Homo sapiens: one gene and its partners. The protein of the gene in region 3 purifies or fractionates together with the protein of the main gene of each other region. This does not show direct contact. Each region holds a gene or a part of one and is shown on either strand. Other genes may lie near its edges.

The links. Proteins that work in one complex are often made in the same cells at the same time.
Region 1: the proteins of P2RY12 (region 3) and GOLGA5 purify together in Homo sapiens (affinity purification with mass spectrometry; 3 studies listed by BioGRID and IntAct, with this or other methods). This does not show direct contact.
Region 2: the proteins of P2RY12 (region 3) and TTC39A purify together in Homo sapiens (affinity purification with mass spectrometry; 3 studies listed by BioGRID and IntAct, with this or other methods). This does not show direct contact.
Region 4: the proteins of P2RY12 (region 3) and TSPAN15 purify together in Homo sapiens (affinity purification with mass spectrometry; 3 studies listed by BioGRID and IntAct, with this or other methods). This does not show direct contact.

Annotation. Positions count from the first base shown.
Region 1 is NC_000014.9:92,835,805-92,839,304, reverse strand, and holds part of GOLGA5 (golgin subfamily A member 5), read right to left. Parts: intron 1,920-3,500; coding exon 1,856-1,919; intron 1-1,855. UniProt on the Homo sapiens protein: Involved in maintaining Golgi structure. Stimulates the formation of Golgi stacks and ribbons. Involved in intra-Golgi retrograde transport.
Region 2 is NC_000001.11:51,299,563-51,303,062, forward strand, and holds part of TTC39A (tetratricopeptide repeat protein 39A), read right to left. Parts: intron 3,012-3,500; coding exon 2,944-3,011; intron 2,855-2,943; coding exon 2,795-2,854; intron 2,172-2,794; coding exon 2,010-2,171; intron 1,655-2,009; exon of another isoform or gene 1,284-1,654; intron 1-1,283.
Region 3 is NC_000003.12:151,335,481-151,340,899, forward strand, and holds the end of P2RY12 (P2Y purinoceptor 12), read right to left. Parts: intron 5,343-5,419; exon of another isoform or gene 5,281-5,342; 5' UTR 5,116-5,280; intron 3,380-5,115; 5' UTR 3,366-3,379; coding exon 2,337-3,365; 3' UTR 1,363-2,336; downstream 1-1,362. UniProt on the Homo sapiens protein: Receptor for ADP and ATP coupled to G-proteins that inhibit the adenylyl cyclase second messenger system. Not activated by UDP and UTP. Required for normal platelet aggregation and blood coagulation.
Region 4 is NC_000010.11:69,457,965-69,461,464, forward strand, and holds part of TSPAN15 (tetraspanin-15), read left to right. Parts: intron 1-3,500. UniProt on the Homo sapiens protein: Part of TspanC8 subgroup, composed of 6 members that interact with the transmembrane metalloprotease ADAM10.

The sequences.
Region 1 (3,500 bases), on a different chromosome or scaffold from region 3:
TGTACACTGAGGGCAGGCACTGTGTCTTACCTGCCTCTGTATCCCCTATGGGACACATGAAGGAATGAATGAAACAACTAAATGAGCTCAGTGCAATGGAAGGTAATAAAGACTTGCTACTCCTACAGAATTCAGTTGAGAGGAGTCAGCTCTGAACTTCAACACATTCACAATATGCACGTGTATGCAAAATAATCAGTTGATTATAATGCAGAGTGATTAAAACTGCTAGATACACATGAAGTTGGTTAGAAAACACTTTTAGAACAGTTATAGTTGGTATTCTGAAAGAGAGTTTAACCAATGTTCGGTGAAGAAGAGATGGGAAAATATTCTAGACAGAAATAATGTGTCGTTTCAGAGGCTGATGTAGGGCCCAGAACACGATTCATAGTGACAAATTTAATTCCCTCATGGTAGTACCGAAATGATACGAGATTCCATCACTAAGTGCCTCACCACTTTGTCGTGTGCCAGAAATCACATCTCATGGGCACCATCTCATGACAGTGCCCGTGTTACTCATCATCACTAACACCTGGGAAATCAACCCCTCTGGGGCATATTCTGAATGCTTTCTGATGCCATTCAATTTTTTTTTGTACTCCCCACGCTTTCCTTCTTAAAAACTTGTTATTATGCCAGGTGCAGTGGCTCACACCTGTAATCCCAGCACTTTGGGAGGCCGAAGAGGGCGGATTACTCAAGGTCAGGAGTTTGAGACCAGCTTGGCCAACATAGTGAAAACCCATCTCCCAAACACAGAAAAATTCGCTAGGTGCAGTGGCGTGCGCCTGTAGCCCCAGGTACTCGGCAGGCTGAGGCAGGAGAATCGCTTGAACCTGGGAGGTGGAGAATGCAGTGAGCCAAGATCATGCCACTGCACTCCAGCCTGGGTGACAGAGCGAGACTCAGTCTCAGAAAAAAAAAACAACACAAAACCTGTATTTAAAGGAATAACTCTTCCCTCTAGTGGATCACAGAGAAATTTCTTTTTAAAGAAATTTCTTTTCAAGAAAACAGCCCATTTTCATTCAACCCAACTACTTTTAGACATACCCACTCCAAATAGTTAGCAGCCTTTTTAGGCACACGGTACATGCGAAATGGCATCCCAAACTACCGTAACCATTTTACTAGAGGTAAGAAATCTGGGAGAAAGTAAATCAATCTTGAGGCTCTTTTAGAAAATAAAGCAAAACACATGAAAACAATTAAAGCAACTTTACAACGTCAAGATAAAAAATTGTTTTGTATTCAAATTGTTTTTATCATTAGAAGGGCTTTAAAATGGAGGTAACTATTAGACTGCGTTTAATTTTATTTGTAGGAAAAGCCTTTGAGGAATTTATATTCTAGACATAATGAATTGTCAATTTATACTCTACCAAAAGAAATCTTAATTACTAAAACTGAGTTCTCTCTTTCCAAACTGTCTGCTGGCTGGGTGCGTTGGCGCATTCCTGAAATCCCAGCACTCTGAGAGGCCAAGGTGGGAGGATCACTCGAGCCCAGAAGTTTGAGACTATCCTGGGCAACATGGTGAAACCCTGTCTCTACAAAAAATACAAATATTAGCTGGGCATGGTGGTGCACGCCTGTAGTCCCAGCTACTTGGGAGGCAAAGGTGGGAGGATGGCTTGAGCCTGGGAGGTAGAGGCTGCAGTGAGCCAAGACTGCACCACTGAACTCCAGCCTCAGCAAAAGAGCCAGACCCTGTTTCAAAAAAAACAAAAAAAAATTGATTGATTGCTAAAATATCAATAAGATCTGTAGCCAAAACAAACAAACAAACAAAAAAAAAAACTAGTTAAAAATCAAGTGCATCATTGTTTTTTCAAATAAATTTACTTACCATATATATAATTACAAAAACTCGCGCTATGGGGTATCTTCGGAGAAAAATTCCCAGGCGAATACTGTGCAGACACAGGTGTGAGGGGGAGAGGAGAGAGAAGAGTCACAGTCAAAACAAATCTTCCTGTGGTAATATCTAATGATGCTGATAAATTTAACTCATTTAAACTATTTATGTGGCTACCACAGAAGAACAATTTTTATAGCAGACTGTTAAATGATTACTTGAAATAATAATATAAAAATGTCATAGAGGTAAATAAATGCTTTTATCATTATTTGGGGCTTGGCTGTTAAACTTCAGCACAGGTATTTCTCTTAATTCTACAGCCACAACTGTAGGAGGCAAACTTGATCCCTAATTTTTTTTTTTTTTGAGACGGAGTTTCTCTCCTGTCGCCCAGGCTGGAGTGCAATGGCGCGATCTCTGCCCACGGCAACCTCTGCTTCCTGGGTTCAAGCAATTCTCCAGCTTCAGCCTCCCGAGTAGCTGGGATTACAGGTGCGCCACTACCACCACGCCTGGCTAATTTTTTTGTATTTTTAGTAGAGACGGGGTTTCGCCATGTTGGCCAGGCTGATTTCAAACTCCTGACCTCAGGTGATCCGCCTGCCTCAGCCTCCCCAAAGTGCTGGGATTACAGGTGTGAGCCACCGTGCCCGGCCTAAATCTTTTTTTAGTGGAATTACAGAAGTTACGAAAGATTAGGTGGGTGTCAACTATGTGACTGGGGAAAAAAAGAGTCTGGTTGGCATTAACCTGCAAATAGCTAATCTAGAAGCTTTTGTATAGATACATGCTTCTAAAAGGTACAAAGCTATAAACTCATGCATTTGAATAAATAGTGTGGAAGCAATATGATGTCCAGATCTATTATGCCTCTGCAACATTTTTTTCCCTATCAAGACAGATACATGCAGAAGCAATACCCCTTTCTGCTTCTTTCATTGCCACTAGCACAATGTCTTGCACTTAGGTTCTCTAACAACTACGTATGTTGAATAAATGAATAGTTGAACTAGATGTGCTTAATTTGGACATAATGGCTATGGCATCCTAGTTCTGAGGCTTCAGTCATCTTGGTATATCATTCTTATTTTTAATACAATAGCTCAATTCTGACACAAAAAGGTACAAAAAGATTATTATGCCACAATTCATTAAAACTTTTCATTATAAACACTACAAAGAAAAAGGGTACAGTAGGTTATTTAGACAAGAACCTTATCAATGCTATATGTAAACTATTAAAATATTTTTTTGATAAGGCAGATGTCTGCTAATATAAAAAATTTACATATACATAAACATAAATTTTGTTATTTATATAAAATATATAATACAATGAGTGCTGTTCAGCTATATATAGTAGCATCTTTTATTCTAATAGCATGATAAAATTCTGGGATAAAACATTCAAATGGATACTTTTACATGAAGTAGAGGCTTTCTCAATAAAATTTAATGAAGTTTTTAAAAATAGAATTTATTATAGAAAAAAGAGATACAGTCAGGGTTAATCATCTTCAATAAAATGTAGGCATTGGCAGACCTCTTGACATAATTTCTGACATGATATTTCAAATATCATGAAAGAAGTCACTTCATGAAAGTGTAATATAACTGTGAAATAAATAAAAGT
Region 2 (3,500 bases), on a different chromosome or scaffold from region 3:
TTACAACCCCCATTTTTCACAGAAGTCCTCATGAGGAGAGTGTTGCAGAGAGAGAGGGACTGGCCACCCCAAAGCCACACAGCGGTCTGGGGACTGAGCCAGATTTCCTGACAGCTGGGAGGCCTGGCCCACCTTCTGTTCCTCTATATAGCAGCTGTGTGCCCCCACCAGGTCTCTCCTTCCCCATATGGTTAGCCCCAGCCACCCACCTCACTCTACAGGAAGGCTTCGAGAGTCACTTTCAGTTCAAAAAGGTTCCCTAAGGCCCAGAATCCCAGCACTTTAGGAGGCAGAGGTGGGAAGATTGCTTGGGCCCAGGAGTTCAAGACTAGCCTGACCAACATAGCAAGACCCTGTCTCTAAAAAAAGAAAAAAGGTTCCCTGAGGCTTTGTCCTTTTTGGGAGTAGGAGGTGATGAGGAGGGGGTGTGGGGGCCATGGGAGCTGGGCCTGAGGAAGCACCTTCAACAGCAGGGTGGGCTCAGGGCAAGCCCCGACTCCTCAGGAGGACTCTAGGAGCAAGAGAGAAGCAGAGGCCTCTGAGTCACACAGGACTGTCCTCAAATCCGGTGTCTGTCACCAACAGCCATGTGGGTGGGAAAGTCACAGTCCTCGCTTAGCATCAGTGGCCCTCATGTGCCCAATGGAGATAATAACTTCTCCTCACTGGGTGTGGTGTGGAGGACATGACAGGTGCCAGACATGTTGAGAGCTCAGTAGAAGCCTGCTCCCTTCCCCAGCCCCACCTGCCCCAGACCCAGAGAATTCCCCTTCAGCTTGGTCCCCAGGCAGGGCTACGGAAGAGACCTCCATGCAGAGGAGGGGGAGGGACCAGATGCAGATGACAGGTCTCCTAACAGGTGCCAATGTGGGTCAGTTCTAACGGCTGCCTGGAGCTTTGCAGGGAAGGTATCTAAGGTCACAGCTAGGCTCATGGCAGAGGATTGATTAGCAATGTCTGCTATGGGCAGGGGATGAAGCCATGAAGACACATGTCCTGTGTATTTACAAATAACAGATTAGACGTTTGCTGAGCTAGGTGGTTGTAAGACTCTTGGTTCCAATTTCTGCACTATCATTACTATGATGGTACAAGCTAACACTTATTTCAATACTTACCATGATAAATTTCATCTTTGGTAGGCGGGCATCTGTTTGGCTTTGTTTTGCCTGTATGGCATCTTGTTAATCCCTCCACTATTTCTGGGTGCATCATTTTCTTCTGTGGAACCACCCCTCTCCTACTCTCAGCCCATGAGGAATCTTCCCACCCCTCTGTTCCAGGCATTGGCAGGTGACAAGTCAGACCAGTGAGGCTCAAACTGTGGGACTCTGGTTGAAACCAAGGGGAGGATATGAGTAGAAGCAGCCCGTGGCCACCTTGCCTGTCACATGGAGAGAACCTTCCTGCAAAGATGCAGCAGAAACAAAGATGTCATAGGAGAGAGCACAGCCACAAATGGAAAGACCAAGCCAGACGACATCATTTGAATTCCTGGATCCAGCCCTACCTGAAGTCGGATGTGCCAAGAATGTTCAGTTATATGAGCCTTTTGTGTTTTGGACCTGCATAGTCCAATATAGTGGCCACAAGCCCTACATGGCTATTTAAATTTAACATTTAGTTAATTAAAATTAAATAAAACTGAAAACAATCAGTTTCCCAGTTGCACTAGGCACATTTCATGTGCTCATTGTGCACATGTGGCTGGTGACTACCATATTTGGGCAGTGCATAAGTAGAACATTTCTACCACAGAAACAGTTCTACTGGACAGAGGGAGCCATGTTTCTGTCCTTTGTGACTAGAAATCTCTTTGTGACACATTGTGGTTCAGAAGTTTCTCTTGTGGTCTTTAGTTCCTTCCAAGCCTGAGTCCTATTAGAATTTAAGGTTATGTTTAGATTCCAGCTGAGACATCTGTGTTCAGTTAGGGATTTGGCCCGTGGTCTGGAGGCACACAGTCAGCCCTGGTCACCCAATGCCCCTAACACGTGGCATCAGCCCACCTTGGACCAGCAGTTCTCCTTGCTGAGCAGGTCGGCGTAGAAGTAGGACATCTTCCACTGGCCCTTGTAGGTGAAGCACCACATCAGCTCCCAGTAGCACATGTGGTGGAACTGCTTCCAGTGCTGCTGGGCCTCACAGCACTCCTCGAAACGCCGGATGGCCTGCAGGCACCTTCTGGTCAGCCTGACGGGTGCCCACCCAGCCCCAACCCCTCTGCATCCTCCGAACCTCCCAACACCACAGCAGACCGGGACTCCTCCAGGGCATAGTGGTCCAGCCCTGTGCTAGGCTCAGGTGGGGCCCCAGGAGCCAGGAGATCTGGCCTCCAGTCCTGGTTTTACCTCCTAAGTCTTACATGACGTTGGGCTCAAATACAGCCCCCGCCTAGGACTCTGGTTTTTAGTAACAAAATGAAAGAGCAGGAGAGAGCTATAATGGAGGGGAGGTACCAGACTCCAGCCTAATCGTCATGCCCTAAACAGATGGGCTTTCCTAACCTCTGCCTCCCTCAAGCACCTCCCTCCACCTCCCTCCACTGCAATGCTGCAGTCCTATATCTCCCAGTCAAAATCCCAGGCACCACAAATGCCTCCTCCTCCCTTGTCTTCCCAGGCTGCTCTGCCAGAAGGGCCTCTCCTGCCCCTGCTCTCTGGTTGGTTCTCTCTTGGCCCCCCCCCCGCCCCCAGTCTATCCTGTCCCTGAGTATGTCACATGTGCCTGACTTCCTGCTGGTCTGGGAGACCCCGAGGGATCCCCAGCCCCGGCCCGGACCCCCATCACTCACTGCATCAATGTTGCCTTTAATGACTTCAATCCTCCCTGCAAAGAACAGGAAGATGGCACCCTGCAATGACACACATGTAAGTCCGTGTGGGTCCGTGGGGTCTGTGGGTGTTTGTGGGCTGGGGGTACCGGGCAGCACATGGGGCTCACCTTAGGGTACCGGTTCAGGTAGGGCTTCAAGAGCTTCTCGGCCTCCTCGATGTTGACGTTCCCAGTACCTGGAGGAGATGGTGGGGGAGACACAGAACATGTCACCACCCCTGGCTCCTGTGATCCTGCCAGCAACCCAGCAGGGGCTTCCCAGGGTCTCCCCCTCCCCCTCTGTGAAATCGAGATAATTCTCCCTGTCCCTAGGGTGACATGAGGATTAAATAAGGCAGGGCAGATATCGCCCCCAGCACTTCACAGGGCTCGATAACCAGGAGCCTGCATCCACCAAGGCTGTGCCCAGAACCATAAGGTGCTGTACACAGTGTCTTCACACCCTCTACAGGGTGGGCACAACCACCCCCATTTCACAGATGAGAAAACTGAGGCTGGAACCCAGTCACACTGTGAGGCAGTGGGCGTCAGCAGGCCAGTCCCCAGGACAGTGGATGTGGCTCTGTTTCTGGTTTCAGTACCCCTATCCCTAGCCACAGGGCATGAACAGGGTCTGTAGCCCCTCGTTCTCCTTCCCCCTTGGAGACGACCAAACCCCAGGGCCC
Region 3 (5,419 bases):
AGAAAAACTGTCAATAACCAATACCTTTAGGACTTGTAAGCCACTGAGGCTATGGGCAAGACTACATTTTGTTGTCTCATCTTTTGAACTTTTCACATCTGGACCTGAGTCTACAGAATTTGGCTTCATTTAAAAAAGTAAAACTCACTGTGAAATGTGGGGTTAATATATATTAATATGCCAAAAGCTAGAGATAATGGCATGTTTTATGTATAATGATCCCTCCATAAATACTAACTCTCACACTGTTTTGAATGGGTTTAGTTTGATGTAGTATATGATGTCTAAGGTCTCTGAATAAAGATATCCCAGCAAAGTGTGATTTTAGAGTTTTATGTAAAATTTCCATGGCATATATACATACTCATAAAACATAGGTAATTTCAAATACTTTCAGTTACTTTTACTAAAATACCATATTACTATTAGCATTTCTGTTTATTTCATCTCTTGTGGAAATTGTCATCTCAGTGACAAAGATTTTGGGGGTAGTTTGTGTCCCCTCTGTAGTCTCCGAACATCTGACCTCCATGACACTGTGAAGTAGTCAGTTTCAGTCCATGCTCTACCCCAACTTGAATGGGTGGAGGGATGAGTCTGCCTTTCATTTTTGTTATATGCAAAAGAAGAAGGTTAGATTAGTTGATCTCTAGATTGTCTTCTACCTCAAATATCCTGGTATTCCTATAGAACATGTAAATTTATGCATATGATTTTAGAGTGAACTGTACTAGTCTACATAGCAGAAATTATTACTGCTGTTTATCCCAGCAGTGTATAGGTTATATACTATATGAACTGTCTCTGTATCTCCACTGACACTGAGTGCTCACTTTTAGTGGTGCCGGAGAAAGAAATGTGGCTGGTTGGAAATGAATACCACTTAGTAGTTAAATGAGTTCAGCTTCGTAATGAAATAGAACTCAGCAGAGGTTGTAGAGGGTTTCAATAAAAGTGATTATTATTAAAGTTCAGTGAACTTTATACAACAATACACCCTTTTATTTCTTCTGGCATTATATTTAGGTATTGATGTCTGTTCCTCCTTCTGTTTGAGAGTCACCTCTGAGGATCATAAAAAATTGAGATAAGTGATGTAAACTTCCACATGTGTTATATGTTTTGTTTATGTTAAAATAGCGAATATGCCTTGTGTAGAATTAGACTGCATGTTATAAGTCTGACCTGTTTTATCATTTACATTTGAACTTATTGAAATGAGAAGTCATCTTCAGAAGAGACTTTGCACAATAACATGTAATAAAGGTGTTGGCATTAATTCTTAAATGGATTTGATGTAGTTGTATATGGTATGGTGAGTCATGGTATCTAATATCTTTGAACAAAGAATTTACAACAAAGAATGATTTAGAGTTTAATGTAAATTTTGTATTTTATACACACCAATACAAACAAGTAATTACAAACAGATCAATCACTTTCCTCTCAGTAGTTATGCTGTGCAACTTTGTAATCATATTTAATTAATTTTTTTCACTAAGGTAAAATGTTCATTAACCTAATTAGCAGCTATTTTCTAGAAGCTAATTAATAAAGGTAAGTGTCAATGATGGTATTATTGAAGTTGTAAAAAATTAGTAAAACTAGTTTCTCTAGAATTAAGGAAATATTTCTATATTTTTTAGTATTAGAATGTCATAAAAGTAAGTCTCCTTATTTTAATGACTTCGATATTTCTTCTCTTTATTGTAAAGGTCTTCTTTAAATCTTTATCTTCTAAATAAACATAAAAAATTAAGTCCAATCAAATACAGTTTCAATTAGTTTAAATCCCTTAGGTTTTTGCTAATAATGAAAAGTTAATAGTTATTATTCTTTGTGTATCCCACTTACTTAAATTTTTATAAGTATCCCAATAGGTCAGGATTTGGTTAGGGGACTAGGATATATATACATTTTAACTATCATTTTTGGTAAGAAGATTATATCCAATTGATCGTTCTTCCTTAGTTGATTATGAAAAAATAAAATTGTGAACGATAATGTATTTTAAAAATTACAGTAAATATTATATGATTACTCATTTTGGCAAAACTCTGCAAAACATGAATTCTGTGTAGTTTTGCATGCAGCATGACAATTGGATGTCGTTTGTTTTGCTGCTAATACAGCTACAGTTTAGATTAGTTTTCTATATTTTAAGATAGCTTTTCATACTGGAAAGGTAAATGAAAATTGCTTTTGTAATCTTCTGTTTCTTTAGAGTCATTATTATTAACTTAGTTGCTTCTTCGTCAGTTAATATTTTTACTTAGCGCTTTGCTTTAACGAGTTCTGAACACAAAGAGATTGAAATATTTCCTTAGTTAATTTGTTTACATTGGAGTCTCTTCATTTGGGTCACCACCATCCTGTTCTTTTTTCCTATTGTCCTGGGACAGAGATGTTGCAGAATTGGGGCACTTCAGCATACTTATCAAGGAATTTCTGAAGGACTTGCAAAGGAAAAAATAGATGAACGGATCCAGGCATGCATTTAAGGAAGTTAACCACAGAGTGCTCTCTTTCACATAGAACAGAGTATTTTCAGCAGTGCAGTCAAAGACATCCCGGGTTTGGCTCAGGGTGTAAGGAATTCGGGCAAAATGGAAAGGAACAAAACAAATAAAGAATACAGCAATGATAATGAAAACTTTGACGTTCACCTTTTTCCTGGGGACTTTACCTACACCCCTCGTTCTTACGTATGACCGGTACAGTTCTTTTGTAATGAGTGTATAACATACAATAACAATTAAGAAATTAATCCAGAAAATGACTTGACAGATGTAATTTACTATTTCATGCCAGACTAGACCGAACTCTGATTTAAGGAAAGAGCATTTCTTCACATTCTTGTCTCTCGGCTGCCTGTTGGTCAGAATCATGTTAGGCAAAGAGAGTAAGAACATGAATGCCCAGATGACAACAGAGAGAATCTTAGCCCCCAAGAGATTTTTGGGGTTGGATGTTTTAAATGGCCTGGTGGTCTTCTGGTAGCGATCGATAGTTATCAGTCCCAGGAATGAAATACTGATATACATTGTGAAATAAAATATGACGGAGGTAACTTGACACACAAAAGTTCTCAGTGGTCCTGTTCCCAGTTTGGCATCACTAAGAATTTTGAATGGAAAAGTCAGAATCATGAGAAGATCAGAAATGACTGTGTTCTTAAGAAAAATAATAAAGTTTGATTTACTCCGGATTTGAAAGAAAATCCTCATCGCCAGGCCATTTGTGATAAGTCCAACAAAAAACAGGACAGTGTAGAGCAGTGGGAAGAGGACCTGGGTGATTTTGTAGTCTCTGGTGCACAGACTGGTGTTACCAGGCGCAGAGGTGAGGTTGTCGACGGCTTGCATTTCTTGTTGGTTACCTAGAGAACAAAAGAGAGGATGGTTATTTTCAGCCTAAGGTAGTTATTATTGCTGTTATCTCTGTGTGTAACTTTTTTGGACACAGCCTCCTCTAAAAGTTGAGGTTTCTCATCTTCATTGTAGTAGTTAGTATGAACACAGAAAACTGAATCCCAAAATATTTCATTGCAGCAAATATTGCATCTCTGCTGAAGAGAAATGATCTGAAGTACAATATGTGAAGTTATAGATGCTTAGTATTTTTTTATTTGTTGAATGTTTGCCTCTTAAAGCACATTTTGTCTTAGAGCTCACTCATATTTATATGCAAAAGCTGGAAGAGAAATAATGGGGCTGTGCTTTACTCTTCTCTAGCTTCCCCTCCATGCCTTTTAGCTTTTTGGTTTCTATTCACAGTCACTTTTCCCCCCAACGTCCTTATTTCTGAGCTTCTTTTACTGTAGTACCGTCAAAACAGTTGAGAGAGAAATGATGGATAATTGCCTGTTAGAATCCTAAAGTAATAAAAAGGGGGAAGAAATTGATGGAAAATTACTCTTGGGAAACTTATTAAATAAAATACTGAATCAGTAAAAAAAAAAAAAGCTGACCTTTTTTCTTTATATTTGGAAGATATTCCTGCCTCTATATTGCTCACTCATTCAAAGATTGGCCTCACGGAGATTCATTATTCTGCTTCAAATATTTTAACCCATGTGTATCTTATTTCCAACTTTCCTCAGTGTTTTGAAGTTGCTGCATACATTTTCTTGAATATCATTCAGTATAAATTTTAAAACAGTAAAAAAAAAAATAAGAGTCAGAAATGGCCTGTGTATATATGGTCATGAGTTGGCATTCCTCAAAACAGGGCATACTTTCCAGATTTATGGAGTGTGTAATGGTAGCTAAAATAAAATATAGGTTATTACCACAATAGGCAGCTATAATGAAAACTTAACAAGTGACTTGAATATGCTATATGGCATCTACATCTTGGGAATTTGAAATGACGTTTGTAATCTTTTTATTTCACCAGAGATAAGTGAAATTGATTCTATATAAAATATTCTTAATAATCAGAGATATATTGAAAGTACAAATAACAAATTTTAAAAAATAACTTTCGTGTAAAAGATATTTAGATAAATGAATGTAGCACTTAAATTCCCCAAAATGTCCATGGAATTCCTTTCTGTCCTTAATTATGGAAGGAAAACGATTAAGAATCATGTTGTCACAGTATGGCTTCAATTTTCAGCATCTCCTCACCTATTTAGCGCTTTAAAATAATGCTAAACAAAACCTAATGTTTTCCAATACAAGATCACTGATTTTAACCTTTCCTGCTACTGCTGTGTGGTCTTAGTTCATCCCTGACCGTTTTGGAAATTCGACTTAGTGAATATACATTTTGTGTAGTCTGTAAGATATTTAACAAGTATTCTTGACATTGAGAATTTCAGCTCCCTTTATCTGTATTTAAATCTCATTTTATACTTGAGGCAAAGTAACTAAGACCATTTATATTTTATTTCTATGCTTTGTATAATTTTTCTTAATAAAGAGGCTAATTAACAATTGTCTCTGACATCACTAATTAGACTTCTATTTTAATTATAATTTTTATTCCAAATACATGCTTGCATTGATAGTTATTAAGGTTTACAATTTTAAGAGAAACTTGGAAAAAATGTACACACATATCAGAGTGTAAATACATATATTTGTCAAGTACTTGTAGAAATAACATTACCTGATAACTGTTGATTCTGGAGGGTTTGAATGTATCCAGTAAGTAGTAGTTATTGCAACCTGCAGAGTGGCATCTGGTATTTTCCTTTTAATGTCTTAGTTTAGTTGCCAAACCTCTTTGTGATAGAGGATTTCCTGAGTTTTCGTCAGTAAAGTCTTGAGTGCTCTAGAGAGAAATAGAAGGAGAGAAAAAGAGGGCTTCACAATCAGAGATTGTCTTCAAACACTGGACTCAAAGCTATGCAGACACTGAATTTCTATCTGTCCTCTTTTAGGACTTCTGCTTTTATTTCCCAGGAAATGTG
Region 4 (3,500 bases), on a different chromosome or scaffold from region 3:
CCTCTAGTGCAGCCTTTTAAATTTACCGATAAGAAATCAGAGGCCTGAAGAGAAGTGAGTTGCCTGAAAGCCCACAGCAAGTCAGTGACAGGCCAAGACCAGATCCAGGCTGCCTGACTCCAGTTTCTTCCTCGGGCCCCCATGACCTTTCCAGGCGCCATGTATGTTTCTCCCTGGTCTCAGGGTGAGGGTAGAAGATAACCTTTCTGAAAGAGGCCACGTCCCTGGCCTCCCAGTGAAGCACTAGGTGAAGCCAGGCCAAAAAGAAAGCACTTCTCTGGAGACAGTTTCCAGGAGATTTTTACTTTCGAGAAGAGCTTTATTATTTTTGTGAAAATCATACATGCGCATAGCTTAAAAGATTCAAGCCATTTGGGAAAGTACAACGAAAACAGCAAAAGTCCCCTTTGATTCTACCACTGGGATTCAGCCACTGTTATATGTTGGTAAACATCCATCTGGACATCTTGTACATATATGTAGACATTTTATTTCTTTAATTATCTTTCTTATTGTGTTTGATTTGTCGAGCAAAGTTCATTTTCTGGCTCTAGGTAAGCATTCCAAATAGTGAAACTCAAATAGTGAAGCTGAAAGTGGGGCAGCCTTCATATTGGAGAAGTGGCCAGCCGTGCCTAACGGGCTGTCAGAGATGATCTCATAGCATCAGACTGGGCTCAGGCCTCGGGCACAGAGAGGTCCTCCCCTCCCCCAGTCTGGCCACAGAGCCTTTAAAATCCAGAGAATCAGGGCTGCAGCCCTGCCAGGGGTTTGGAGAACCTTCCAACACCTTCATTTTATAGATGAGCAAACTAAGGCCCTGAGAAGTGTCCTTCGCTCTTAACCTAGACTTTGTACATGGTCTCGTTCCCCGCTTTAATAGAGGAATTGCTTTATGTCGTAGGACTGGACCTTGCTGCCTTTGGGTTGGTTCCTGGAGAAGCAGGAATAACCACCTGCCCTCCTGCCCGGAGGCCTTTCTTCCCAGGTGACTCACAGTGCCACCCTGGGGTGGGGCTCACGGTCAACCTGATAAGGGACTGATAATGAAATTTCTGTACCAACTGGCTCCACACAGGGGAAAGATGTTTTCTGGGTAAGTCTGGTCAGAAGAGGTTGATGGGGGGAAAACAAAACAGACAAAAAAAAAAAAAAAAAAAACAACAACAAAACAACCTTTCCCAGAGAGAACTTTTAGATGTGAATGGGTTTGAATTGACTTCTTGTTGGAAGGCAGGAGCATTCAGTCTTAACCAGCCGTGCTCTCTGGTTGGTTGGTTTGTTCATTAAGTCAACAAATAGTTATTTGATGCCTACTGAATGCCAGGCACTGTGATACCGTGATAGGTGTGGGAAGCAACTATGAACAAGACAGGTTTAGTCCAGGCCTTGGAAGACAGAGCAGTAAATAAATATCACTTGTGATAGGTGCTAAGGAGAAAATTAGGGAGCAAGTGGGGAGGGATGGGCGTTTCCACTTTCGATGATGTGGTCAGGGAAAGCCTTTATGAGGAGCTGACATTTCAGCTGAAGCTCAAATAGAGAAGGAGCCAGCCATAAAGACTTGTCCAGAGCATCCCAGGCAGAGAGAGCCATGAGTTCAAAGTCCCTGAGGCAGGTCGCAAGCATGGCTACAGCAGATGAGGAAGCCCGGGAAGGGCTGCGCTGTGGGTGGAGAGGGTGGCAGGGGCCTGGCTGTGTGAAGAGTTTGGGGTTCGAGTGACTGAGAAGCAGGGTTTCATTGTCAGGCCCTGTGGTCTTGCCATCCAGAGACCTAGATCAGGTGTTGGCTATTCTGTGTGACACTGGGTAAAGGACCAGCTCTCTGAGCCTCCGAGATGCCTCCTCTGTGGGTACCCCAGAGGGCAGTGGGGAGGATCCTGTGAGATGAGAGGTGCCAAAGCACGGGGCCTACTCTAGGGTCCCCCACCCACGGAGGGAGGGAGACTCTAGGCACCCCCCCCCCACGAATGGAGGGAGACTCTAGGGCTCCCTGCCCACGGAGGGAGGGAGAGTCACCTGGGAGCCTTGCATTGCTCAGGGGTAGTTGGGGAGATGAGATGAGATGAGATGAGATGAGATGAGATGAGATGAGATGAGATGAGAACCTCTGGAATCCGTCTTGTCAGAGGAGGCTCCTTTGCCCCTGGGGGTACTCAGCCTGCCTAGAACAGATGGCTATGGAACCAACTCCTCCAGCCAGCTGGTCTGACCCCTAGGGTGTGCATGTGGTCTTTTCCAGAGGCTGGGCCCCTCCCACCCCTTAGTTTCTGGGCTACCATGGCACACTGTCAGAAGCACTAGGCCACAACAGGCACGCGGGGCCAGGCAGGCCGTCTGAGAAGTGTCCTGCTAGGCTCTGAGGGGTCCCAGCCCTCGGTCAGCATGAGTTGTTCAGCTCCAAGCTAGGCCCCTGGGCTGGTGGAGGTGAGGAAGAGACACCGTAGAGACACTGTAGACTTACGATGTCACCTTCCCCAGCTAGAGGGTTGGCCTGTGAAGGAGCTGGCAGCCATCTCTGCCTCTGGCGATGTGCCATGTTAGCCCAGGAACTAAGGGGTGGGAAGGGCCCAGTCCCTGGAAAAGACCACATGCACGCCCAAGGGGTCAGACCAGCTGGCTGGAGGAGCTGGTTCCATCAAGGGCCAGTCTGAGCTAGGCTGCCTGACTGTGGTGGCCTGACCACCACATTTTGCTTCATCTCTTTGGATTCTCAGAGTGACCCTTGAGCTGGGCTGGACAGGGGGTCTTGTCCTGTTTTACAGAGGAGTCTTTGGGAGGACTCTGAGGGCTTCACTGGGCAGGGAGGCCTCGCAGAGAGGAGTGGAGATGAGTCTTAGGAGAGGGAGGGCGGGCTACAGAATGTTTTTTGGGCCTGAGTGTTGAGGTCAGAAATGTCCTCTGGGAAGACCAGGTCTGGAGGCCAAGCAGAGCTGAGGAGGATGAGCACTTCTTGGTTGGCGGGTGAGGAGAAGGTCCATGTGACAAGTCATGGACAACTCTCTGTGCCTTGGTTTTCTTGTCTGCTGGGAGGGGATAACTGTTGTGCTGCCCACAGGGGTGAGGCTTAGATGAGGCAGTGCCCACAGAGCGCTGAGTGGGCATCTGGCTGGGTAACCGTTCATGCAGATGCTGGGAGGAGACGCCGTCTGCCACGTGTCTCACCACAGTTTGCTTCATCTCTTTGCATTCTCAGAATGACCCCATGTGCCTTGTCCCATTTTATAGAGGAGGAGACTAAGGCCCTGAGCGGGGAAGTAACTTGTGTGAGAACCATCATTTGCATGTGTTCCTGGGACAAGAACTGTTTCACTGTGGGAAAGGTTACTGTTGGGTTTTAATTTTTTCCAAAAGGGACTTTCTCGCCAAGACATTTGCATCTGGGCCTGCAGGGAAGCAAGTATTTCACTGGAGGGTGGAAGGAAAACAGCCTTGGCCCAGATGGGCTTGTTTTTCCCTCTTCAGAGCCCTCCCACTTCCTGCCTGGGAGAGCAGGAACC